7 linked regions of the Homo sapiens genome follow. The protein of the gene in region 1 interacts with the protein of each later gene in a pairwise test. Each region holds a gene or a part of one and is shown in the gene's direction. Other genes may lie near its edges.

Region 1 (3,500 bases):
CAGAGTGCCAGGTACATAGTAGTTGTGCAATAAATATTAGCTACTTTTCCTCTTTTCTTTCTAAATTTTGATTTTGAGTCTTACCAACAAAACTAAAAAAACAAGCAAAAACTAAATATTAGATTTTTAGAAGCTTATAGGTACAAAAGTAATAAAATCAATTTTCAGTAGAAACTCAAATAGGTGAAAATCAAGTACGGTGTGAAACAATATCTAAGTAATTACATTTCTTCATAATTGAATACCAACAAAAAATCAGTTTTAAGCAAAACTCAGTGGATCGTCATTGATAGGAGTTTTATCTGCTGTTAATGCTGGATAAAATCCAAGAGCGGTTAGCACAACATCTTCATTTGACACACGAGGAAGTGGAGATTTAGCTCCCTGCAGATGACCTTGAGCACGTTTCTCATGCCTTCACTCCTGCTTCATGCAGTGCACTTGCAGTTCTCCATGTGTTCACCCCACACAGGCATTTCAGAATCCATTGGTTGGAACCGGTTTGTGCGTTCTGCAAATGAGATGACTGATGACACCCATCCTCTTGCAGTTGCCTGGGCTTGTCATCTTAGCCTTGCCCTGTGACTACCCTCATTCTCGCCATGGCCACTCAATCCACTGCCAAGCCCTGTAGCCCTTCCTCTTGCTGTGTTGCTCACAGTTCTTGCTTCCTGTTGGTCTCCACTAACACTTCCTCAGGTCAGGCCCTCACAATTTCTTTCTTGGCTAATTGTATTTTCACAACAATGAAAGTGCTGTTCTCTGCACCTTTAGTCTCTCCATTACGGCTTTGCAGTAAGTGGATAAGGCAGGCTCTGATACCAGATTGCCTATATTCAAATCCTGACCTTGGGCCTCTTCTCTGTAACTGGAAATCATAACATTACCCGCATGGTACTGTTAGGAGAAAACGAACATGTTATACATACAAAGGCTTCTCAACACCTACTAAATTGGTAGAAACGACTAAGCCAGTCTACTTTACTTCTCCAGGTTCTTTTATTCCACTAGTCCCCTTAAGAACAATGGTTTTTAGTCAAAATGGGCTGCTCATAGTTCTCTGAGCATATCTCACACTCTTCCAGCTTTCTTTTGCCCATGTTGTTCCCACAGTCTGCAGTGCCAACTGACCTTATTTTGTCTCCTCCAGTCATGATGTTGTTCTTCCTTATAACCATCCTAGAAAGCAGTTGGCTGATATGTATGAAGAGCCTTAAAAATTATCCTGCCTCTGGGCCGAGTTTGGCTGATCATGGCTGGGTTCTTTTACATATTTTGGGGTTGGTTAAATGTAGACTGGTCTTGGGTGGTGATATGGTTTGGCTCTGTGTCCCCACCCAATTCTCATCTCGAATTGTAATTCCCGTGTGTCTAGGGAGGGGCCTGGAATCCCCAAGTGTCAAGGGAGGGAAGTGATCAGGTCATGGGGTTGATTTCCCCCATGCTGTTCTAATGATAGTGAGTGATGGTTTTATAAGTGTTTGGAAGTTCCTCCTTTGTTCTTCTTCTCTCTCTTGCTGCCTTGTGAAGAAGGTCCTTGCTTCCCCTTCACCTTCTGCCATGTTTGTAAGTTTCCTGAGACCTCCCCAACCATGTGGAACTGTGAGTCAATCAAATCCCTTTCCTTTATAAATTACGCAGGCTTGGGTATTTCTTTACAGCAGTGTGAAAATGGACTAATGCAGGTGGCTTCAACCTGGACAACTGGGCTCTCTTACTACATGATCTCTCATTTTCTAGTAGACTAGCCTAGACCTGATTACATGGCAGCAGCAGGGTTCTCAGAAAGGCAAAGCAGAAAAGGTCTTTTGAAGTGTTGGCTTTAAACCAGATCCTCTTCCTTCCACCACATTCCATTGGCCAATGCAGACTGCAAGGCCAGTCCAGCTTCATGGATTAGGAAAGTCGATTTTGCCTCTTGATGGGCTGAACTTCCAAGTCACATTACAGCGGACATGGATAAGGGAGGGGTGAAGAATAGGGGGCATTTTTTTCCCCAATATATCCTACTAGAGATGGACAGAATTCCTACCTTTGAGGGTAGAACATGAAAATTAAGATCTGGCAGTACGGTGTAGTAGTTAAGGGCTCTGGAAACAGCAAGCAGACCCATCACTTACTGACTGGATCATCTCGGCAGATTATGCACATTTTCTATGCTTCAGTTTCCTTACTTCTATTTTTTAATTTTTATTTTGATTTTTTTTGAGACGGAGTCTCGCTCTGTCACCCAGGCTGGAGTGCAGTGGCGTGATCTCGGCTCACTGCAAGCTCTGCCTCCCAGGTTCACACCATTCTCCTGCCTCAGCCTCCCGAGTAGCTGGGACTACAGGCGCCTGCCACCACACCTGGCTGATTTTTTGTATTTTTAGTAGAGATGGGGTTTCGCCATGTTAGCCAGGATGGTCTTGATCTCCTGACCTCATGATCCGCCCACCTCAGCCTCCCAAAGTGCTGGGATTACCGGTGTGAGCCACCGAGCCCGGCCAGTTTCCTCACTTCTAAAATGAGAAGCATTCCTACATCGTGAGCTGTTGAGAGGATTGAATGAGTTAATATTTCTAAAGTGCTTAGAATCTCACTTGGCATAAAATGTGATATGAACTATTATTATTATTATATAAGGCAGGCAAAAGAACATCGTGTCCTGGGTCTGTGTTTTAGTCCCTGCTCAAGGAGCTGCATGCCTAACCCTAACCCTGTATATAATGATATATCATAATATATATGTGTCATGTTTTATCTATTCATCCATCAACGGACAATTGAATTATTTCCACTTTTTGGCAATTGTGAATAATACTGTTGAGTCTCAGCTTTCATTTCCCTTGAGTGTATGCTTAGGAGTGGATCTGAGGTTAAATATTAAGTATTTTGTGACTATAGGAAAAGCAAAGCAAAATATGAAGTCCAAATGTCCCCCTTCCTCTACCGTAGTTTCTCCTGAAACTACTGCCCAGAAATGTTTCTCTTGTCTGTCCCCATAATCCGAATTATGTAACTCTTCCTTATCATCTGTTGGAAAGCATTGCAATAGCTGGGCTACTTGTCTGCCTCACCTACTATATCTGTAAGCTCCTGGAAGGCTTGCTCATCTTTGCTTGCACAGTACCAGCCAGGTAGTGGTAGGCACTCGGTAAACATGAGTGAATGAGTGAATGACAGTTTCCGATTGCCTGTGTGTATTACAAAAACAACCCTCAAAAGAGGTCCAGGCCAGGCGTGGTGGCTCACACCTGTAATCCCAGCACTTTGGGAGGCTGAGATGGGCAGATCACTTGAGGTCAGGAGTTCGAGACCAGCCTGGCCAACATGGCAAAACCCCATCTCTACTAAAAATACAAAATTAGCCAGGTGTGGTGATGCATGCCTGTAATGCCAGCTACTCAGGAGACTGAGGCAGGAGAAATGCTTGGACCCAGGAGGCAGAGGTTGCTGTGAGCCGAGATCACACCACTGCACTCCAGCCTGGGCAAGTGACAGAGCGAGACTCCATCTCA
Region 2 (3,500 bases), on another chromosome or scaffold:
ATGCACCACTGTGCCTGGCTAATTTTTATATATTTTTAATAGAGATGGGGTTTCACCATATTGGCCAGGCTGGTCTGGAACTCCTGACCTCGTGATCCACCAGCCTCGGCCCCGCAAAGTGCTGGGATTACAGTCGTGAGCCACCACGCTAGGCCTAGAATACCCTTTAAACTATAACAAGGCCTAGAATACCTTGTTAACTATAATATCCAGAACTAGGAACTATGGGTTCAACCTTTTTATAATAATTAATAAATATGTGTTAAGAAAAAATTTTTAACACAATTCTGTCATCTAACAATGATTGAGTTGTTTCTGACTGATGTCTTCTCTAGGCAGTACTTGGTTGTTCAAAATAAAGTGTTTGAGGAAATACATTATTACCTGATAGATGAAATAAGGACTCAACTCTAAGGTAATTCCTTCATTTCTGAGGAATAATGTGAGAGTGAATGATTTTCCTTATATTCCAGCATATGTAGTAGATTTCCTTCTCAGAAGTTTACACAAATTCATGTTTCATAAGTACTATATTTTTAGAAGTGCAGCAGGAATGAAACTTAGTTATGTAATCCAGCAATTCTCAAACTTATTCAACCTTACATCCTTTGGAAAAGAGATTGCCTGTTCTAACACGAGAAATTTACCAAAATGTTCACTTACTTCTGACCTAGGTTAAAGTCATGAATGTTCTGGATGCTGAGAGTGGATTTAGATACCCTAAACATAAACAATAAGGGGAAAAATCTAAACAATTAGTAATATGAAACCTTAGTCATTGAAAACATGCAACAAGTCATTATCCAGTGCCTTTGATAAGCTAGGAAGAAGGAAAACTGTAAAACTATGCTAAGTGTGGAAAAATGCCCTATCTTCAAATAACTTATTGTCTGTGACTTCAAGGAACTTGTGCTCTATTTGGAGAAGACAGCCATAAAAAGCTAAGCATTAGTTGGGCATGGTGGTGCATGCCTGTAGTCCTAGCTCCTTAGGAGACTGAGGTGGGAGGATCACTTGAGCCCAGGAAGTTGAGGCTGCAGTGAACCACGATTGCACCACTGCACTCAGCCTGGGTGACAGGGCAAGACCCTGTCTAAAAACAAAAACAAAAACAAAAACAAAAAAACCTATGCATTATTGTATTAGAGGCATTGTGCTGTGATAGAAATTTGTGCAATCTAGAGTACAGGGGTTGGAAGAGATGAAGAATGAAGGGTCAGTTCTACAAGGAGAGTCAGACAAAGCACATGAATAGAGCTTGGTATTAAAACGTTGCATCAATCAGATGAGTTGGCAAAAGAGTTAAATTTTCTATTAAAAAGACTTTTTTTAAAAGTTGCATCCAAAATACATTGATATATGATATGAAAATGAATCCCAGCTAAAGTAGAACTCCATTATTACATAGATTCCAATCACCCAGGCACGATCAGGTCCTCTTCACCTTCAAACCTTACCCCATCCCAGATATGTACTATGATAATATTGTTAATAACATGAAAGGGGAAAGGGAAAATAGCCGACATTTAGCTTAAGCTGCCACGTCTAATTTTCACAACAGATATTTAAGGTGGGCTCTATCATGCCCATTTTAAGATGATAAAACTAAGGCTCTGAGGACACATTCATTATGCAAAGTCATTACACAGAGAAGACTAGCAAAGCTGAGATATGAGCCTGGGTCTGGGTCTGCTGACTTTAAACCCTGTGCTTCGTCATCAAAGCAACAGAGGTGATCGTTTTCTGCCTCTTCTTCCAAAATTTTAAATGTTTTCATTCTACTTTCTAGTTACTGTCTAGAATGGATATTGCAAAAGTTCTTAACATCCTGGGCCTACATTTTTTCATCCGTAAGAGGGAGTTAACCTAGCTGGGTTCCAGGATTGCTTCTGCCTTTTGCAGTCAATAATTCTATTTTGATTTTATAATTGAAAACAAAATATGGTAGTCTAATCTGTTTTTCATTAATCTCCATCATAGAAAAATATTTAAAAGAATGGAATTTTTTGATTGTTTAACTTAAAGAAGAGAAAATGCTCCGAGGGTGGAAGGGGTGAGAGATGTCAAGGCAATCTTCAGATATTTTAAAGACTGATGCCAAATGGAAGACAGGTTAGACTTGATCTTTTTGGCCTCGAGGAACATAATGAGGGCCAATGAGGAGGGGTTCTAAACTTTTACTCTTTCTCATAAGTAGAACCTGCCTGTCACATGAGACATCACAGTGACTGGCCTTAGCAGGATAATTTGACCAGAAAACTTAAGATTACTGCCAGGCCAGGTGCGGTGACTCACATCTGTAATCCCAGCACTTTGGGAGGCCAAGGCAGGCGAATCAACTGAGGTCAATAGTTCAAGACCAGCCTAGCCAACATGGTGAAACCCTGTCTCTACTAAAAATACAAAAAAGTAGCCAGGCATGGTGGCGCACGCCTGTAACCCCAGCTACTCAGGAGGCTGAGGCAGGAGAATCCCCTGAACCTGGGAAGTGAAGGTTGCAGTGAGCTGAGATCACACCATTGCACTCCAGACTGAGCGACAAGGGTGAAACTCCGTCTCAAAAAAAAAGATTACGCCAATCCTAAGGTTCTTTGATTCTATAATAGATTGGCTTTATATATCAGCCCTGGGGAGGAGAGTTTATCTTTAACAAGGTTAAAAGGCCATGGCTCAAAGGTAACAGAACCAACACCTCTGTCATCAATGAAAAGGTGAAAAAGAAATGGAAATGGGAGTGAAGAAGGGAAAAGAAGACACCAAAATTCATTCTAGAAGACCCCACAGGCCCCATCTACTATAAAGACTAGCTCCTACTCCATAACTTCTTGTAGTCACCATGTTCAACAGCAGGTGGATTAGGTTTGTTGAGTGTATCCTCTGGACCACCTGGAGAATGTGACTGTCTCTCTTCCTCTCTTTCAGATGTTCACCTCCACGATATTTGCTGTGGTTGGATTCTTGGGAGCTGGATACTCGTTTATCATCTCAGCCATTTCAATCAACAAGGGTCCTAAATGCCTCATGGCCAATAGTACATGGGGCTACCCCTTCCACGACGGGTAAGGCCACACCCTGCAATGCCCACCTGTCACCACAAGGGGCATGGGCAGATAAATTGCCCAAGGGGAGACTGCACACAATGCCATGTCTTCATCCTTATGCAAGCCTCAGGCTCGGTGCTCCTTTGAGGCAGAGATGGAGTTGTGGAATACAGCAAAGTTGCATAGGCTCTCACCTCTAATTGCTCCTTTGACAGACCCCAGGAGAAATAACTAAAAGAGGACGGATGCCTCCTTTGGCCTGAGGGAAGGAAGAGATTTGTTGTGTCATCACTTGCACCCAAATATTTATTAGCAGCAACACAAGGCAACTAATAATATTAATAAACAGAGTAATAGTTTTCATTACAAATCTCATAATAGAAAACAAGAATAATTAACCACTAACTGGGCCCAAGGGCTTTCATTAATACCCCAAATTGCCTATAATTAAACAATCAT
Region 3 (3,500 bases), on another chromosome or scaffold:
GTTATTGCCATTCAGGGCCTCTGAGTTTTAATAATTTAATAATTTAATTTAGTAATGAAATTAAGATATGGTTTGGTTTGCTTTCTATTACAGCATACTTGAACTAACACCTTGTTTTTCCTGGTGTATTATCTGATGACTGAGTGTAGGAACAATGTCATTAATGTGTGTTTCCTCTACTGCATAATTTCCACCCATGGAAGAGTCTCCATTAAGAGGACCTGCTACAAATGTGGAAGCTCAGAGACCTCGAAATGAAGTCATCTGTATCTGTTGGCCTGCTGGGTTAATTCTGTATGTGCTGGTGAAACTGGAGAAGTCTGCGTGCTTCTGACAATTGATGGTGGAATTCTACGAATTAAAGCGTTTTAGCAGGAAATGATTATGAAGGACCTGATCACTGTCTGTGTTTCCATAATGTGATAAGATTAGAGTAATGGGTGAAATGAGGAGCAATCAGGAAACATCTTTGTTCTTTTTCAACAGCTCTGAACAGCAACATGGGGTGCAAAGTCCTGCTCAACATTGGGCAGCAGATGCTGCGGCGGAAGGTGGTGGACTGTAGCCGGGAGGAGACGCGGCTGTCTCGCTGCCTGAACACTTTTGATCTGGTGGCCCTCGGGGTGGGCAGCACACTGGGTGCTGGTGTCTACGTCCTGGCTGGAGCTGTGGCCCGTGAGAATGCAGGCCCTGCCATTGTCATCTCCTTCCTGATCGCTGCGCTGGCCTCAGTGCTGGCTGGCCTGTGCTATGGCGAGTTTGGTGCTCGGGTCCCCAAGACGGGCTCAGCTTACCTCTACAGCTATGTCACCGTTGGAGAGCTCTGGGCCTTCATCACCGGCTGGAACTTAATCCTCTCCTACATCATCGGTAGGTCCCAGGGGTCCGGAGCTCGTGCCCTCTACCACTTTTCTGTTTGTTCCCACCTCCAAAGTGTGGGTGGATGCCCCACAGGGAGGTCATTCTTGTTAACACGAGAGGCACAGAATTAATAGGATGTTTCTGATTCATTTAGAGGTATTTAGTTTCTTTTAGTAGGTTTTTAAATTACTAGAGTAAATGCATCACTGATAGAGAAAAATTGGGAAAATAAAGAAAAGCATGAAGAAGAAAGTAGAAATACCCTGCCTGACAACATGGAGAAACTAATTCTCTCATTCATTCATTCATTCTTTTAATAAATGTTCATTGAGTACCTGCTCTGGGCTGGGCATTGTGCTAGATACTAGGGATCCCATGAAGGCATAAGACACTCTGTGTTCAGAAGTTTACTGTCTACAGATACAACTATGGTTAACATTTTTGTGAATTTAAATGTGTATTTTTCTACAGTGTATCTCTTTATAAAACAATATATAGTAAACATTTCTCATATCATTAGCTATTTTTCCACAGTAACATTTCTAATGCTTGCCTACCATTGTATAGATTTATATACACAGCGTAATGTATTGGTGTCTTTATGGGATGTTCAGATTGTTTCCATTATGTTGTTGCTGTTGTTATTAACAGTTAATTACTTTATGTCTTTGGGCTTAGCCATGATTCTTTTCCTTAAAACTGTCTAAGGAGCAGAATGGCTGTCAGTGGGTCTGCGTGTTTTTAAGGCCTTTGTTGACTGTGATCCTCCACGTAGCCAGGGGCCCCTTTCCCTGCAGTGTGGGCACTGGGCATCGGCCTGTAACACATCCACCCAGCAAATAAGGAAGCAAATGTAGAAAATCTTTCCGGTTTGCCAGGTAAACACGCTTTGCTTCTCTTTATGCTTTTTTGTATTTTGATTACAACTGAAGTTGAACACATCAACTTAAAAGAAACAAAAACCTAAGTCTCAGAAGCAAAGGGTACAAACGGCCACTCAACATGCCATTTATTTTTTTTTTTCTCAAACTTTTTGGTAATAGCGAAAAAACAGTAAGACCTGTTAAGTTGAGCCATGTGGGTTCCGCCTTGCTTCTGTGTCAGCTCCCACTGGACCCCACCACACCCTCCCTGGCCACACATGCTGCCTGCTGGGATCCTCGCAGCCCTGGGCTCCCCACAGCCCTATCTCTGCATGGGGGGCATCACTCCCCCTTCACCAGGACAGCTGGGGGAGGGCACACACTCACATTCTCCGAGCAGCACCTTCTCTTTCTTTCCAGCAGCTGCAGTATCTGCTGAGAGCCAACATAGCTTAGTCTTCTGGGTTCTAAAATAAAATTCACAATGTTTTCTTTCAATGCCACATCAAAACTTAACAACCACACATGGTTCTCACAAGCTGAAGTCTCTCACTGGGAATGTAGCTATTGTAAATGGACCGTTATGTTTCCAGAGGATTTACCTGAGCATAAAATATACATTGAGCATGAAATGCTTGCAGCTTCTAGACCAACAAATGTAAGGCTCTGCGAGAGTGCCGTTTGCTTGTGTGAAACCATTTGCATGCATTATAAAAATGTGTTCTCAGCCTTAGCTGCTGGGAAGGGCAGTTTTTCCAGCAAACATTTTTTTAAAAGGCATAATTCAGAAATTGGGAGTGGATAGGCTGGGAAGAAAGGCTGGGGTAGCCCCTGTCACTGAGCAGGACAGGGTTTGGGAGCCACGTTTGCCATAAGCCAGCTGCTTTGGGGGTGACAGGGAGATGGTGAGACCATTTTTACAGAATTCATAATAGATTGGCTGCTTAGGAGGAAGAAATGTGGTTAAACTTCTGAGTTGTTGGAAAGATACTTACTTATCATAAGACCAAATAGTGAAATTGAATCTCTGCAGATCACTGTGGCAATATGCTGTGGATAATTAGGACCATGGTCACCGACAAGGCCCGCTTTGAAAATAAAGGAAAACGCTCTATGAAAATGCTGGAATTTTAGTGACATTTCCTGAGAAACACCAATGGAAACACATTCTGACACCCTTTAGAATTATGTGAGAGGAGAGAATGAGAGTGAAAGACAGCAGCCAACTATTGTTGGCATTTTGAGTGCTGCCCTGTTGGTGTTCTTCGGCACCGGAGGGTGCAGGCTGAGGGGAGAACGAGGAGGGCTGGGGTCTGTCTGCTGTCCTGCACTCTGGGGATGCTGTGGCCTCCGAATCAGGTTCAGGCAAAAAGTGGCAGAGGTGGCTGATGCCAACACTGAGATGAGCAAGTGGCTTTGTCCCTGAGATGGAGTTCAGCCCCTTCAAGGACTTCCTAGGGCCCCTCTTCTTGCTGAGAGAAGAATTATGGTGCAGGCACCATCATCTCTGCAGCCAAGGGGTTCCTAGAAAAGAGGCTTCCTAAGCAGCATTCCTCCAGACTGCCAGCTGCACCCCAGGAGTGCATTATGAAATCAATTTTTCATGAGTTGTCATCAATGTTTACTTTTTTTAATGAAACAAAGTAGGTAGCATTAAATATTATCAGAGTGCCTCTCAGGTGGTAAGGGTAACACTCGTTTTGCGAACTTTTTATTCGGATATATATATTTGATAGAATACACCTGTGTATATTGGGTAGGATGTGAAGTGCATTC
Region 4 (2,829 bases), on another chromosome or scaffold:
CTGACCAATAGCTGAGTTCTTGGGAGAGGAGCAGCTGTGCCTGTGTGATTCCTTAGTGTCGAGTGGGCTCTGGGCTGGGGTCGGCCCTGGGCAGGCTTCTCCTGCACCTTTTGTCTGCTGGGCTGAGGGACACGAGGGCAACCCTGTGACAATGGCAGGTAGTGTGCATCCGTGAATAGCCCAGTGCGGGGGTTGCTCATGGAGCATCCTGAGGCCGTGCAGCAGGGAGCCCCATGCCCCTGGGTCGTGAGCTTGCCTGCGTATGGGGTGGTGTCATGGAGCCTCATGCCCCTGGGTCGTGAGCTCGCCTGAGTATGGGGTGGTGTCATGGAGCCGCATACCCCTGGGTTGTGAGCTCGCCTGCATATGCAGGGTCTGTCATGGAACATCCCAAGTCTGTGCAGCAGGGAGCCCCATGCCCCTGGGACATGAACCCACCTGCGTGGAATGCTGTTTGTGAGGTGTCTACAGGGTTTATAGTAGTCTTGTGGACACAGAAATGCACAGGGGACACTTACGGACACAGAAATGCACAGGGGAGGCCGAGCATAACCAGGGGTGAGGGGCAGGCAGCAGTTGTAGTTACTGCCGCGGGGCACTGCTATGTGCAGGGACAGCCAGCACCCAGCCCATCACCACTCCCTGGGCTGGCTGGCAGGTATGGCACCCTGGGAGCCCGGCATATACCCAGGGCACCCCTACGGCTGCCGCCAGTCTCATGCCCAGGTGGGTGCTCTGGGCTGGAGCGAGGGCCAGGTTTTGGGCCGAGGCTTCCCCAGGCAATCCTGTGAGCTCCCTTCTAGCCTCTGACCCAGTCTGGTCTGGCTTGCATGGATGTAGGGCTTGGGGTGGGAAGTTCAGGTCCTGGCTTTGCCTTTGCCTGATGTGGATGAGCAGCTCACATGCTCAGGGCCACCTGAGACTGTCACTGCTCTCCCCTGGCTACTGGGAGGAGTCACTGAGAGCTTCGTTACCCCTGCTGCCTTGCCCAGGGCACACCCTATACCTCCTTATCTGCTCTTCCCCTCCCTGCCGCCTTCTGGGCAGGTAGCAGTCCCTGGCCTCTCCCCCTGGCTGATCACTCTCCCTCAGGCAGTGGAGATCTGCGTCTGGACACCCTCAGATCCTGTCATTGCCTGCCCAGAGTCCTTCAGGGGCACCCCTCTGCCTTGGTGTGCAGTCCAGGGCTCTCACCCAGGTGCCGCACCCTCTGGGGTCTTCTGTCCAGCTCCCTTGCCCCATGTGCTGTCACTGACTCTCCTTGGGACTCGCCTGCCTGCTCAGAGCCCTGCAGGGCTTGGTCAGCTGCCTGTTCAGTGTCAACACTTCCCTGCACATCTTAAAACTGGGCTTTATTTTCGCTGAAGGAACTGTGTTGGGACCCTTGACATCTGTCAGGTTTGCACATGCTGTTTTTTTTTCTCAGCCCACGTGTTCTCCCCCACGTGGGGTAGCAGCAGGACAGACAGTGAATCACAGAGTCTGCCCTGAGCAGAGGCTGCTGTCCCTGGGACTCCTAGCCATGGTCAGACTGTACAAAACGGTTTTCCAGAAATGAAATGTAAATCCATTTTTATACTGAAAATGTTACTGAAAGTCACTTTTATGAGCATCTGCCTTAATAAACAGACATTGATTCCCTTATCAGAAGCCTGTCACACTGTGTTTCGTTTCATCCTGGGGAGAACTGCAGATTTGGGGTTTCTGGCTGTCATACGTCACCTGCCTGTGGGGCGAGTGGGAGGCCCAGCCTGGTTTAGGGAACAAGAGTGACGTGAGGAGTAGCAGGGTGCGTCTCCAGTTACCTGAGGGAAAACAGATATTTTAAGAGATAATAGCATAGCCTATTTTAATATGTTTTAAAGGCCATAAGCATATCCAGGAAGATAAATAAACGTGATACAATGTCCACATAGGAGGAACTTTCTTTCACTGCATTGTTTTCCTTCACAGTGGCCTTCAAGTCACAGGACGCAGCGATTCCCTGCCCTCTTCGGTGTTATTACACAGGCAGGACTTCAGTGTCAGTATCCCTGCCTTCAGTCTTCTTTAGAAATCACATCTGTGTTCAATCCATTGTTTAGAGGGAGTGTATTTTTCCTGTTCCACGAAGAGGACTTTTTGTTCACAATTGGATCACAATGCAGAGGAGTCTGTTCCTCCCCCGTCGGCTTCTCGGTGCTGGGAGGGTGACCTGTCCCAGATGACTCATCACCCTGACATGCTCTTGACAAAGGACACCACCAAGAGGAGATGGCAGCTGTACCGGTGCAGCCTCTGTCTGAGGGGGATATTTGCCTCAGTGTGATTAAAAATCAGTCATGAAAGATTTTTGAATTCAGATTATTTTTATCAGGAACAGATTTTGAACATCCTGAAATCTTTTCCCTGGCATCATATTAGGTTTTCTTTGTTCACTATGATGTAAAGTTTCAGACTCTTGATATTTTTAATATCAACATAGACGGTAGGACAAGGAACGGTACCAGAAATGAGTAAAGAGACAATAATGATAAGATCGATTTATCAAGACATAACAACCCCAAATGTATATGCACTAAATAACAGCTTCAAAATACATGAAGCAAAATGGCAGAATTGAAGAGAATGAGATAAAAACAGAATTTTAACGGGTGCTTTCCGTACTTTGTAACTGACAGACATGAGATCTGTAAGGACAGAGATTTGAACATCAGCCAACACAAGCGAGCGGTCTTTAGAGGATGCTTCACCTAACACTGCTGAAGCACACGGCTTTGCAAGAGCTCGTGGCCCATGTGCTAAGGTAGACCACAGCTGGCTCACCAGGTGAGTCTCAGTATGTTAGCA
Region 5 (3,500 bases), on another chromosome or scaffold:
ACATGCTCTTTCACTGGTCACTCCATTCTTTTTCCTTTAAAGACTTGTATCATATATGCTTGTCTTTTAATTCTTCCAGTCTCTCTTGTATTCATTCTAGTCAGTCTCTCTTCCCCTCTCCCAACCATACTGGAACTGCTCTTACTGAGTTCCCTGATGACCTGTTAAAAATACAGTGGTCATGGCTGGGTGCAGGGCTCATGGCTGTAATCCCAGCACTTTGGGAGGCCAGGATGGGTGGATCATGAGGTCAAGAGATGGAGACCATCCTGGCCAACATGGTGAAACCCCGTCTCTACTAAAAATACAAAAATTACCTGGGGGTGGTGGCATGTGCCTGTGGTCTCAGCTACTCGGGAGGCTGAGGCTGACGCAGGGGAGTCGCTTGAACCCGGGAGGTGGAGGTTGCAGTGAGCCAAGATCACGCCATTGCACTCCAGCCTGGCGACAGAGCGAGACTCCGTCTCAAAAAAAAGAAAAAAAATACAGTGGTCTCTCTTTGGTTTTCATCTTACTTATGAGCAGCATTTGACACAGATGATGGATCCTCCTCCTGGAGGCACTTTGTTTGGTTTCCAGGACACTACCCCCTCCTGGCTCACCTTATGTTCCTTGGTACTTCTTTTTCAGTCCCCACAGCCTATTCCTTCTTATCTTTGTGATCTCTAATTATTGGAATGCTAGGAGTCTGTCTTAGCCATCTTTATCTTTTTAGTTGTTCAGGACAAAAACTTTGGAATCTTCCTTGATTCCTTTTATTTACCCTTCCTCCACCTCCCCAGTCAGTCCATCAGCAAATCCTGTCAGCTCTCCCTTAAAATGTACTTGGAATCTATTTTTCATCACCTCCACTGCATCCATCTTAGACCAAGCCATTACTTCTTGGCCTCGTGATTAAAGTAGTTTCCTAACCAGTCTCCTAGCGTTGTGCTTTTGTCCCTCCTTCTTCTCCCCTCCCCCTCCAGATTTTTACTACAGTAGCCAGAATTCTCTTTCTAACAGGTGAGTCAGAACATGCAGTCTTACACTTAAAACACTCCAATGGATCTCCCTTTCAACGCTTTTTGGTTTTAGCATCTTAAAATGTCATTTAGCATCTTAAAATGTCCAAAATCAAACTGCTGATTTTGCCCCGAAATCTTTTGTGTCCGTGGTCTTCCCCATCTTAGTAAATGTAACTCCAGGAGTGCAGAGCTATTTGTCTTTTTTTTTTTTTTTTTTAAATCTGTACCACTTACAGCAGTACCTGGCACTTGGTAGGCACTCAGTATTTACTGAATAAATGAGAAGAAATGAGTCTTTCAAAGAGCAGGGTAAGAGAATAGTGTTCTAGGTAATATGAACCATAAGTGCAAAAGAACCTGACGGGGCCCAAGTTTGGCATGTTTAAGGAACTGAAAAGAAGGCCAGCCTGGGCATGGTGGCTCATGCCTCTAATCGTAGCACTTTGGGAGGCTAAGGCAGGAGAATTGCTTGAGCCCGGGAGTTTGAGACTAGCCTGGGCAACATAGCGAGACCCTATTTCTGCAAGAAATTAAAATATTAGATATGGTGGCTTGCAGTACTCAGGAGGCTGAGATGTAGGACCTGCAGTAGTGACCCCTGATTGCTCCACTGCACTCCAGCCTGGGCGAGAGCCAGACCCTGTGTCAAAAAAAAAAAATGGCCAGTCTGGGCAGGAGCTTAGGTACTGTATAAATTTCCTGTTGCTACTGCGGCAGTGAAGTCATATGTACTGTTGTAAAGTTCTGGTGGTCAGAAGTCCAGAATGAGGCTCAAGGGGTTAAACATCAAGGTGTGGGTAGGGGTTCTGGAGAATCAGTTTCCTTGCCTGATGCAGCTTCTAAACACCTGGGATCCCTTCCCCATCTTAATGCCATGAGCACAGCCTCTTCAAATCTCTGTCTCTCATCTCTACTTTGCTTGTTTCATCACCTTCTCTCACTGACCCTCCTTTGTTTCCCTTGTAAGGACCATTGTGATCACGTCATCTGACCAGCCTGGGTAATCCAGGATGATCTCTTGACCTCAAGATCCTTAACTTAATCTCATCTGTGAAATTCTTTTTGCCAAGTAAATTTACATATTCACAGGTTCCAGAGATTAGAACCTAAACATTTTTGGGAGGGGTGAGGAGGTATTCAGCCTACCACAGTTAATGAAGAGTGAGTGGCCTGAGATAAGGTCTTAGAGATTGGCAGGGACCAGATCATGATAGGTCATGATAGGGAGTCTGTTTTTCAGTCATAGTGCTGAGAGGTTTCAGTAGGGGAATGATAGGATTTGATGTGAAAAAGTCTCCCTGGCCGCTGGATGGCGATTAGACTGTTGGGATCGAGAGCAGAAGGCCTCAGCTTTTTATTCATAACATCATACGGTGGATCTCAATCTTGCTGTACGTTATGATCACACCTCAAAGCAATTATATCTGAACCACTGAGGGCTGGACCCAAGTATCAGCCTTTTTTTGTTTGTTTGTTTGTTTTTTAAGAAAAAGCATTCTAATTGTAGCCAGGGTTGAGAACCACTAGTCTCATAGATCTGAATCCATTTTACCTTTTCAGCCTTAGCTCAGTAGGAGCTTCTCGCATCCATCACTTACTGCATGAGCTACTTGACCATTTCTTAGACAAACTTCCTGTATTCCCACCTGTGCCTTTCAAAATATACCTAGTCTAGGGAGGCCTACGCGGACTGTCAGGGCCCAGCTGACAAACTCTCCTCCAGAAAGCTTCTCCAGTGCCCTGTAGTAGGAATGATTTGCTTCCTTCCCTGGCTCCCATTTGCACTTAGATTTCTCAGCCCTGATCACAGTCAGCTGTATATTATCGTCTCCTTTGCTTATTTACTCATGCCTTCAACAAATACTGTACCACTTGGCTGAATGCTCTGCTAGACACTAGGATTTACTACAATGCAAAGACAGTCTTGGTTGGGCGTGGTGGCTCACACCTATAATCCCAGCACTATGGGAGGGTGAGGTGGGCGGATCCCTTGAGGTCAGGAGTTTGAAACCAGCCTGGCCAACGTGGTGAGACTCTGTCTCTACTAAAAATACAAAAATTAGCCAGGCTAATTAGCCGAGACACACTCCTGTAATCCCAGTTACTCAGGAGGCTGAGGCACTAGAATCTAGCTTGAACCCAGGAGGTGGAGGTTGCAGTAAGCTGAGACCATACCACTGTACTCCAGCCTGGGCGACAGAGCAAGACTCTGTCTCAAAAAAAAAAAAAAAAACCTTGTCTTCTAGGTCCTCCAGCAGCTTAATCTATATGGAGGTAGGAGCGGGTAGATGTGCAATAAGAATACTCTGAGATGATTGTTCAAATGGAGATTCGTCCAAGTGCTGTGGGAACATGGGGATTTCAGAGACAGGTTTTCAGCTATTTCAGTATTTGAGCTAAAAAACTTGAAGGATGATTTGGTATTTGGTGGTGAGCAGGGCATGAGGAAGGGAAGAGTTTTCTGAGACAACATGTGAAAGGCAGGAGATGGGAGAG
Region 6 (3,500 bases), on another chromosome or scaffold:
GAGATGAGGGTAGACTGACCAGGCTACTTAGACTTCTCCACCGTCTCCCTCATCCCACATTATTTTCTTCCCTGGGTCCATGACCCCCAACCCTCCATCCTCAAGGAAACTTGAGCCTGCCTTTGCCTTGCTTTGAACCCTGAGCAACGGGCTCCCCATGGGTCATGGCTGTGACTGCAAACTGTGTTTGAAGAACAACCAAGTTTGGGAGGTGCTGTGTGCTCTGCGACCTTCTTTGAGATCCACACTTCTCAGCAGCTTATTAATAACTCAGGAAACATCTACAATTTGAAAAGAAAGAAAAAGCAGCAGAAGCAAGCAATCAAAGACACCTGTTGGACTCTGTGTAACCTGGCATTCTCCAACTCATTGCACCACTGAGCTTTTATTCTTCCTAGGTGATATTATTAACATTATGCAGATACAAGTGTTCCCCTGAAGGCAGTAGGAAGTTTAGGAAATTGTTCTATAAAGGTGGGACTTGGGAGCAGTTTCAGACTTTCCATATTCTTCAGCAGTCCCTCCCCAAGGCCTCCAAATAAACCTGCATTCTAAGAAAAGACAGAGGCTTGCTCTGCAGCTTCAAAGTAAATGCCCAAACTCAAAACACCCCCACCCCATGAGACTGCTGCCCCCTCACTCTCAAGGTCCTGAGTGATCTGACCCCTCCTGAGCAGCCTTACACTGTACTTCCCCACCCCTCTGGAGTCCCAGCAGAAGTGAGGGGTGACTGCCCCTCGCACAGCCAACACCTTGGCATTCTCTGCGTTACCCTCTCCCACTTCAGTCCTTTGTGTGGCCAAGTCCTGCTCCTCCTGCAGACTCACCCCAGTCCTCAATCGCCAGGAGGGAATGGGAGCAGGGTAGGCTGAGGAGCAGTCATCGGGCCATTGAAAAACACAAACCACACAACCTGCCCCAAGCACAGTTAATAGCCTCATTTTTCCCCCTGTATAGTGTACATACAGCAACCAGCTCTGCCCTGTTTTCTGGGACTTCCCTGGTTTTAGAATGAATAATCTCCAAGCAGTGTTCTTGCAACTGTTGCAAGGACCATGTTAAATTGCTTTAAATGTTGAGACCTGCACCTGGCACCTAGTAAGCGATTGTTAGTTGTTTTAAAGGAAGAGGAAATAACAGTCTCTTCTAACGCTGATTGTGTTGGACAAACTGTCCTAATAAATGCTGTCTTCACCTGGAAAATTTCTGAGGGCAGTTCTGGGTATTTGAGCTTCTATAACCATCCATGCCTACTTAAGCAAGGTGTTATTCTTTCTTTCTGAACTTTGAGGTGCTTGTTGATTGGAAAAGTCTAGAACCCCACCACTAAATCCATTCATTTATATATGCATGCATTTACTCATGCATTCAGTGAATATTTATTGAGTACCTACTATGTGCTAGATACTAAACTGGAGGCTGCACTTGTTCACTCTATATAATAAAGTCTAGCACCCACTTGAACTTGCTACGGCCCTTGCTTCAGGTCTTGCTACTGAGAAACACCGTGAATGCTGGATCCTATACCCTGCCTGGTTCCTGGCTCCCGAGACCCAGATCCTGAGCCAGTGTTCACTGGGTCCCTGGGCTGCCTCAGTGCCTTGTATTATCTTCTTCCCCACCTCCAAGCTCCTTGGTGGCCCCAGACACCCCTAGCTTGGCCCATCTGTGTCCTGCTGTGGACCCCTAGCTGGGAGTCTGTTTTCCCCTCACCCATTATGACTCCTGACTCCAGCAGGCAGTTACTTATAAGAAAGAGGCATCTGGCAGCTGCACTGGGGAGAATGACCTCATAGCACTATAATTAAAGTGATTATCTGAGTGGAAATGACTATTATGAAGCATCCTTCTCTGTTTTATTATGTAGAGCCATTGTAATGGGAACGTGGGATTTCCTATGTTAACACTGATATTTCTGTGATCCAATAAATCCTTCTTCACAATCATCTCCCAGAGGAGAGAAGGCATTCTGTGCAGCAGCTCTAGGAAACATCCCGGTCCCCAATGTCCTAGACATCCTACCCTCTTTGGCCAGGTCATTAAGCTGTGAAAAAACACACTCAGTAACTTGGATAGTGTCATAGAGTGGTCCTTCCCACAGCAGAGTCAATGTAAAGACCTATGGGAGGGCTTCAGGAATGACTCCTCAGACAGGAGCCCTGGGAAGGGCTTCTCCAAGAGAGAAAGTGCACTCCAGAGGCAAGAGCACTGGCCAAGTCCTGACCTGATATCGGATGAGCTGTGTGATCAAGGGCACATCACGTCTCTGAACCTTGGTGTTCTTCCTGTGAGATGGGCCATTAACACCAGGCACCTCATAGGATGGATGTGAAGACTGCATGATAGAGTAGATAGAAGGCAGTTAAAGCAACACCTGGTGCTATGGTTTGGATGTGGTTTGACCCTGCAAAAGCTCATGTTGAAATCTGATTCCCAAGGTGGCAGTGATGGGAGGTGGGACCTAGTGGGAGATATTTGAGTCACAGGGGCAGATCCCTCATGCATACATTAATACCCCCTTGAGGGAGGGAGGGAGTTCTAGCTGTCGTGAGACTGGATTAGTCACTGGAGAGCAGGTTGTTATAAAAGCAAATTCAGCTTTCTAAACTCTCTTGCTTTCTATATCACCTTGTGGTCTCTTTGCGAATGTCAGATCCCCTTCTGCTTTTTGCCATGAGTGGGAGTAGTATGAGGCCCTCACCAGATGCAGCTGCCCAATTTGGACTTCCCAGCCACTAGAACTGTGAGCCAAATAAACCTCTCTTCTTTATAAATTACCCAAGTATTCAGCTATAGCAACACAAAATGGACTGAGACACCTGGTGTGAGCATCAGACACTCCACAAACATTCTTTCTTAAACACAACAAGAGTCCCTGCCTTCATACACAGCACAGATATCTGTTGAGCATCTACCACGTGCAGCACCACTCTCAGTGCAGGCATTAGGCAGATAACTCAAATGGGCCTGGAGTGACCTGGTGGTTCAGGTTCAAACAGTTCCATCCCAGTCAGTGACCAAGCAGAACCTGGTTCCTGGTCTGTGCATCCCTGCTAGGAGCAGTGGGTGCGCCGCACTGCTCCTTTCCACTTGGACCCATTCTCAGAGCTGCTCACACCTGAGCAAAGGATGCAGCTTGGGCCAAGGTGCTGCTAGGCATGGAGAATCTTCCTCTCTGACCTCAGATTCTTGTCCTCTGTTCACAGAGCCTGATCCAGGGATGTCTGGATGGCCGGATGGCAGAATGGAGACCTCCACCCCCACCATAATGGACATTGTCGTCATTGCAGGTGAGCTCTCATCACAGAGCCCTTCAAGCAGCCAGGGTGGGGGGCCTTGGTGAAAACATCCAGGGGAGAACTGACCTAAGGACTTGGGCAGTGGTGGCTGTGGCCATTTTTTCTCTCCCTCAGAGGTGGTTTTGAATGTGGAATGGAGGAGTCTAGCCCTGGGTAAATATATATATACATGCATACATCGTACGTATCTATGTATGTATT
Region 7 (3,500 bases), on another chromosome or scaffold:
GCCCTTGAAAGACGGACAAGGTTCATACAGGCAAAGGGGCGCAGCAGGTATCTTAGAGAAACGTAGAATACCTTTTTCGTGTGTACCTGCTCTAGATAAAGGTAGAATACCTCATACCATGTGTGAAGCTACAGAGACGATTTACCCTGGAGGATGTTCAGGAAGCGGGTGGGCAGAGGACCTCCAGAATAATCCTGCCCACAAGGGAAAAAAGGTGATACCTTGGCAGCTAGCTGAGGGATTAGAACCTTGGCAAGGGGGAGCTGTTTACATTTTTTAAATTTTATTATTATTATTTTTGAGACCAAGTCTTGCTGTGTCACCCAGGCTGGAGTACAGTGGCTTAATTTCGGTTCACTGCAACCTCCGCCCCCTGGGTTCAAGCAATTCTCCCACCTTAGTCTCCCTAGTAGCTGGAATTACAGGCGTGCGCTACCACGCCTGGCTAATTTGTATACTTTTAGTGGAGACAGGGTTTCGCCATGTTGGCCAGGCTGGTCTCAAACTCCTGGCCTCAAGTGATCTGCCCTTCTCGGCCTCCCAAAGTGCTGGGATTACAGGCTCATGCCATTTTTTCTTTTTTAAAATTTATGGTAAAATAAACATAGTACAGGTATTACCATTTTAGCCATTTTTTCGCAGACAATTCAGTGGTAGAGTAGTCCCCGCTTATCCACAGGGGATTCATTCCAAAAACCCCAGTGGATGCCTGAAATCTCAGATAGTACTGAACCCCATCTATACTGTGTTTTTTCCTGTACATACATACTTATGATAAAGCTTAACTTGTAAATTAGGCACAGTAAGAGATTAACAATAATAATAAAATAGAACAACTATAACAATATACTGTAATAAGAGTTATGTGAAAATGGTCTCTCTCACTTAAAATGTCTTATTTACTATAGATCTTAGAAACCTCAGTACACAGTTCTTTTTTTTTTTTTCTTAAGTCAAGAACTTTCACCTTTTCACTTAAAGGAAGCACTTCTTGTTGGCATGTCCAAATTGCATCACTATTCTTGTGCTTTGGGGCCACTGTCATGTAAAATAAGGGTTACTTGAACACAAGCGCTGTGGTACTCTACTAAGCGTTTATAGCATGGACACAAAAGGATGATTCACTTTCCAGGCAGGATGGAGCAGGGTGTGAGATTTCATCACGCTACTCAGAACGGTACATAATTTAAAATGTATGAATTGTTCCTTTCTGGAATTTTCTTTTTCTGTTAAATTTCTATTTAATGTTTTCGGACTGCAGTTGACCACGGGTAACTGAAACCTAGGAAAGCAAAACCGCAGATAAGAGGGGACTACTGTTGTTTTTTTTTTTTGAGACGGAGTCTCGCTCTGTCACCCAGGCTGGAGTGCAGTAGCGCCATCTCAGCTCACTGCAAGCTCCGCCTCATGGGTTCACGCCATTCTCCTGTCTTAGCTTCCCGAGTAGCTGGGACTACAGGCGCCCACCACCACGCCCGGCTAATTTTTTGTATTTTTAGTAGAGACGGGGTTTCACCGTGTTAGCCAGGATGGTCTTGATCTCCTGACCTCGTGATCCGCCCACCTCGGCCTCCCAAAGTGCTGGGATTACAGGCCAGTGCCTGGCCTGGGGGGACTACTGTATTAAGTAATTCATGTTCCTCACCACCATCCATCTCCAGAACTTTACCTTCCCAAACCGAAACTTGACACCCATTAAACACTGATTCCCCATTTCCCTGCAAACACCGTTCTATTTTCTGTCTATGTAAATTTGACTGCTCTAGGTACTTCATGTAAGTAGAATCATACAATAGACCTTTTGTGTCTGGCTAACTTCACTTAGCATAATATTCTCAAAGTTCATCCATATTGTAGCATGTCACAATTTCCTACTTTTTCAAGGCTGAATAATATTGTTGTATGTGTATATTACATTTTGTTTATCCATTCATCTATGATGGACAGTTGAGTTGCTTCCACCTTTTGGCTATTGTGACTGATGCTGCCATAAACATGGGTGTACAAATATCTTCTTGAGACCCTGCTTTCAGTTGTTTGGGATGTATGCTCAGAAGTGGAATTGCTATATCATGTGGTAATTCTGTGTTTGATTTTTTTGAGGATCCACCATATAGGTTTGCACAGCAGCTGCACCATTTTATATTCCTACCAGCAATGCATAAAGGTTTCAGTTTCTCTACAACCTTGCCAACACTTGTTACTTTCTGTTTAATGGTAGTCATCATATTGTGTGTGAAGTGGTATCTCATTGTGGTTTTGATTTGCATTTCCCTAGTGATAGTGATGTGGAGCATCTTTTCATGTACTTATTGACCATTTGTATATCTTTGGAGAAATGTCTATTCAAGTCTTGTCCCATTTTTTAGTTGATTTGTTTTGTTCTTGTTCAGTTGTATATTTATATCCTTTAAAAATTTTTTTTAAAAAATTGATCGTTGAATCAGTCCTCTCTCTCTTTCTCTTTTTTTTTTTTTTTTTCTGGCGATGGAGTCTTGCTCTGTCACCCAGGCTGGATTGCAGTGGCACCATCTCGGCTCACTGCAACCTCCACCTCCCGGGTTCAAGCAATTCTCCTGCCTCAACCTCCTGAGTAGCTGGGATTACAGGCACACGCTGCCACACCCGGCTAATTTTTTGTATTTTAGTAGAGACGGGGTTTCACCATGTTGCCCAGGCTGGTCTCAAACTCCTGAGCTCAGGCAATCCGCCTGCCTTGGCCTCCCAAAGTACTAGGATTACAGGCATGAGCCACTGTGCCTGACCTTTTTTTTTTTTTTTTTTTTTTAAGAGATGGGATCTTACTCTGTTGCCCAGGCTGGAGTGCAGTGGCACAATCCTGGCTCACTACAGACCCAAACATCTGGGCTTGAGGGATCCTCCCACCTCAGACTCCTGAGCAGCTGGGACTGCAGGCGTGCACCATCACGCCCAGCTAATTTTAAAATTTTTTGTAGAGATAGGGTTTTGCTATGTTGCTCAGGCAACTCTCCCGGCCTGAAGCCATGCTCCTTCCTCTGCCCCTGAGTTGTTGAGATTATAGGCGCAAGCCACCTCACCTGGCTGCATTCTTGATCCAGCGAGTGACATGAGTGAAGTAGTGATTTAGGACAGTCTCCTATCCACTGGGTCCAAGCAAGTGTAAGTTCAGAGACAGCAATAGACAAAAGAATAGAAATCACAGATAGGAAGAAAGCTTATACTTTAAATGATGGGATCACTAAAGGCCAGCTCTTCTCTTCTACCCCTGTCTTGCATTTCTCTTCCCCCACCTTCCCACCTATTCCTCCCTCACAGTCTATAAAGACTTCCTAGAGAAGATATCCTCCAGGAACCTTGAAAGGAAGGGCCACATTATGACTCCTGAGCCCTGGGCACTTCTGTCTTTGTGGGCTCCTCCTTCACTTAAAAAAATATTAAAAATCATATTTTACAACTGCATCAGTGTAAGGAAGAATATAATATAATATAATTAATATTTATAATTAGTAATTGAATGG

What was found.
Region 2: the proteins of SLC10A6 (region 1) and TM4SF4 interact in binary tests that used the Homo sapiens proteins (3 or more experiments, as listed by UniProt).
Region 3: the proteins of SLC10A6 (region 1) and SLC7A1 interact in binary tests that used the Homo sapiens proteins (3 or more experiments, as listed by UniProt).
Region 4: the proteins of SLC10A6 (region 1) and LSS interact in binary tests that used the Homo sapiens proteins (3 or more experiments, as listed by UniProt).
Region 5: the proteins of SLC10A6 (region 1) and TVP23B interact in binary tests that used the Homo sapiens proteins (3 or more experiments, as listed by UniProt).
Region 6: the proteins of SLC10A6 (region 1) and GYPC interact in binary tests that used the Homo sapiens proteins (3 or more experiments, as listed by UniProt).
Region 7: the proteins of SLC10A6 (region 1) and SMAGP interact in binary tests that used the Homo sapiens proteins (3 or more experiments, as listed by UniProt).

The regions. Positions count from the first base shown.
Region 1 is NC_000004.12:86,842,885-86,846,384, reverse strand, and holds part of SLC10A6 (sodium-dependent organic anion transporter), read left to right. Parts: intron 1-3,500. UniProt on the Homo sapiens protein: Transports sulfoconjugated steroid hormones from the extracellular compartment into the cytosol in a sodium-dependent manner without hydrolysis.
Region 2 is NC_000003.12:149,484,697-149,488,196, forward strand, and holds part of TM4SF4 (transmembrane 4 L6 family member 4), read left to right. Parts: intron 1-2,922; coding exon 2,923-3,059; intron 3,060-3,500. UniProt on the Homo sapiens protein: Regulates the adhesive and proliferative status of intestinal epithelial cells. Can mediate density-dependent cell proliferation.
Region 3 is NC_000013.11:29,533,189-29,536,688, reverse strand, and holds part of SLC7A1 (high affinity cationic amino acid transporter 1), read left to right. Parts: intron 1-486; 5' UTR 487-500; coding exon 501-870; intron 871-3,500. UniProt on the Homo sapiens protein: High-affinity, low capacity permease involved in the transport of the cationic amino acids (arginine, lysine and ornithine) in non-hepatic tissues.
Region 4 is NC_000021.9:46,187,946-46,190,774, reverse strand, and holds the end of LSS (lanosterol synthase), read left to right. Parts: 3' UTR 1-2,329; downstream 2,330-2,829. UniProt on the Homo sapiens protein: Key enzyme in the cholesterol biosynthesis pathway. Catalyzes the cyclization of (S)-2,3 oxidosqualene to lanosterol, a reaction that forms the sterol nucleus.
Region 5 is NC_000017.11:18,784,183-18,787,682, forward strand, and holds part of TVP23B (Golgi apparatus membrane protein TVP23 homolog B), read left to right. Parts: intron 1-3,500.
Region 6 is NC_000002.12:126,690,658-126,694,157, forward strand, and holds part of GYPC (glycophorin-C), read left to right. Parts: intron 1-3,206; coding exon 3,207-3,290; intron 3,291-3,500. UniProt on the Homo sapiens protein: This protein is a minor sialoglycoprotein in human erythrocyte membranes. The blood group Gerbich antigens and receptors for Plasmodium falciparum merozoites are most likely located within the extracellular domain.
Region 7 is NC_000012.12:51,263,916-51,267,415, reverse strand, and holds part of SMAGP (small cell adhesion glycoprotein), read left to right. Parts: intron 1-3,500. UniProt on the Homo sapiens protein: May play a role in epithelial cell-cell contacts. May play a role in tumor invasiveness and metastasis formation.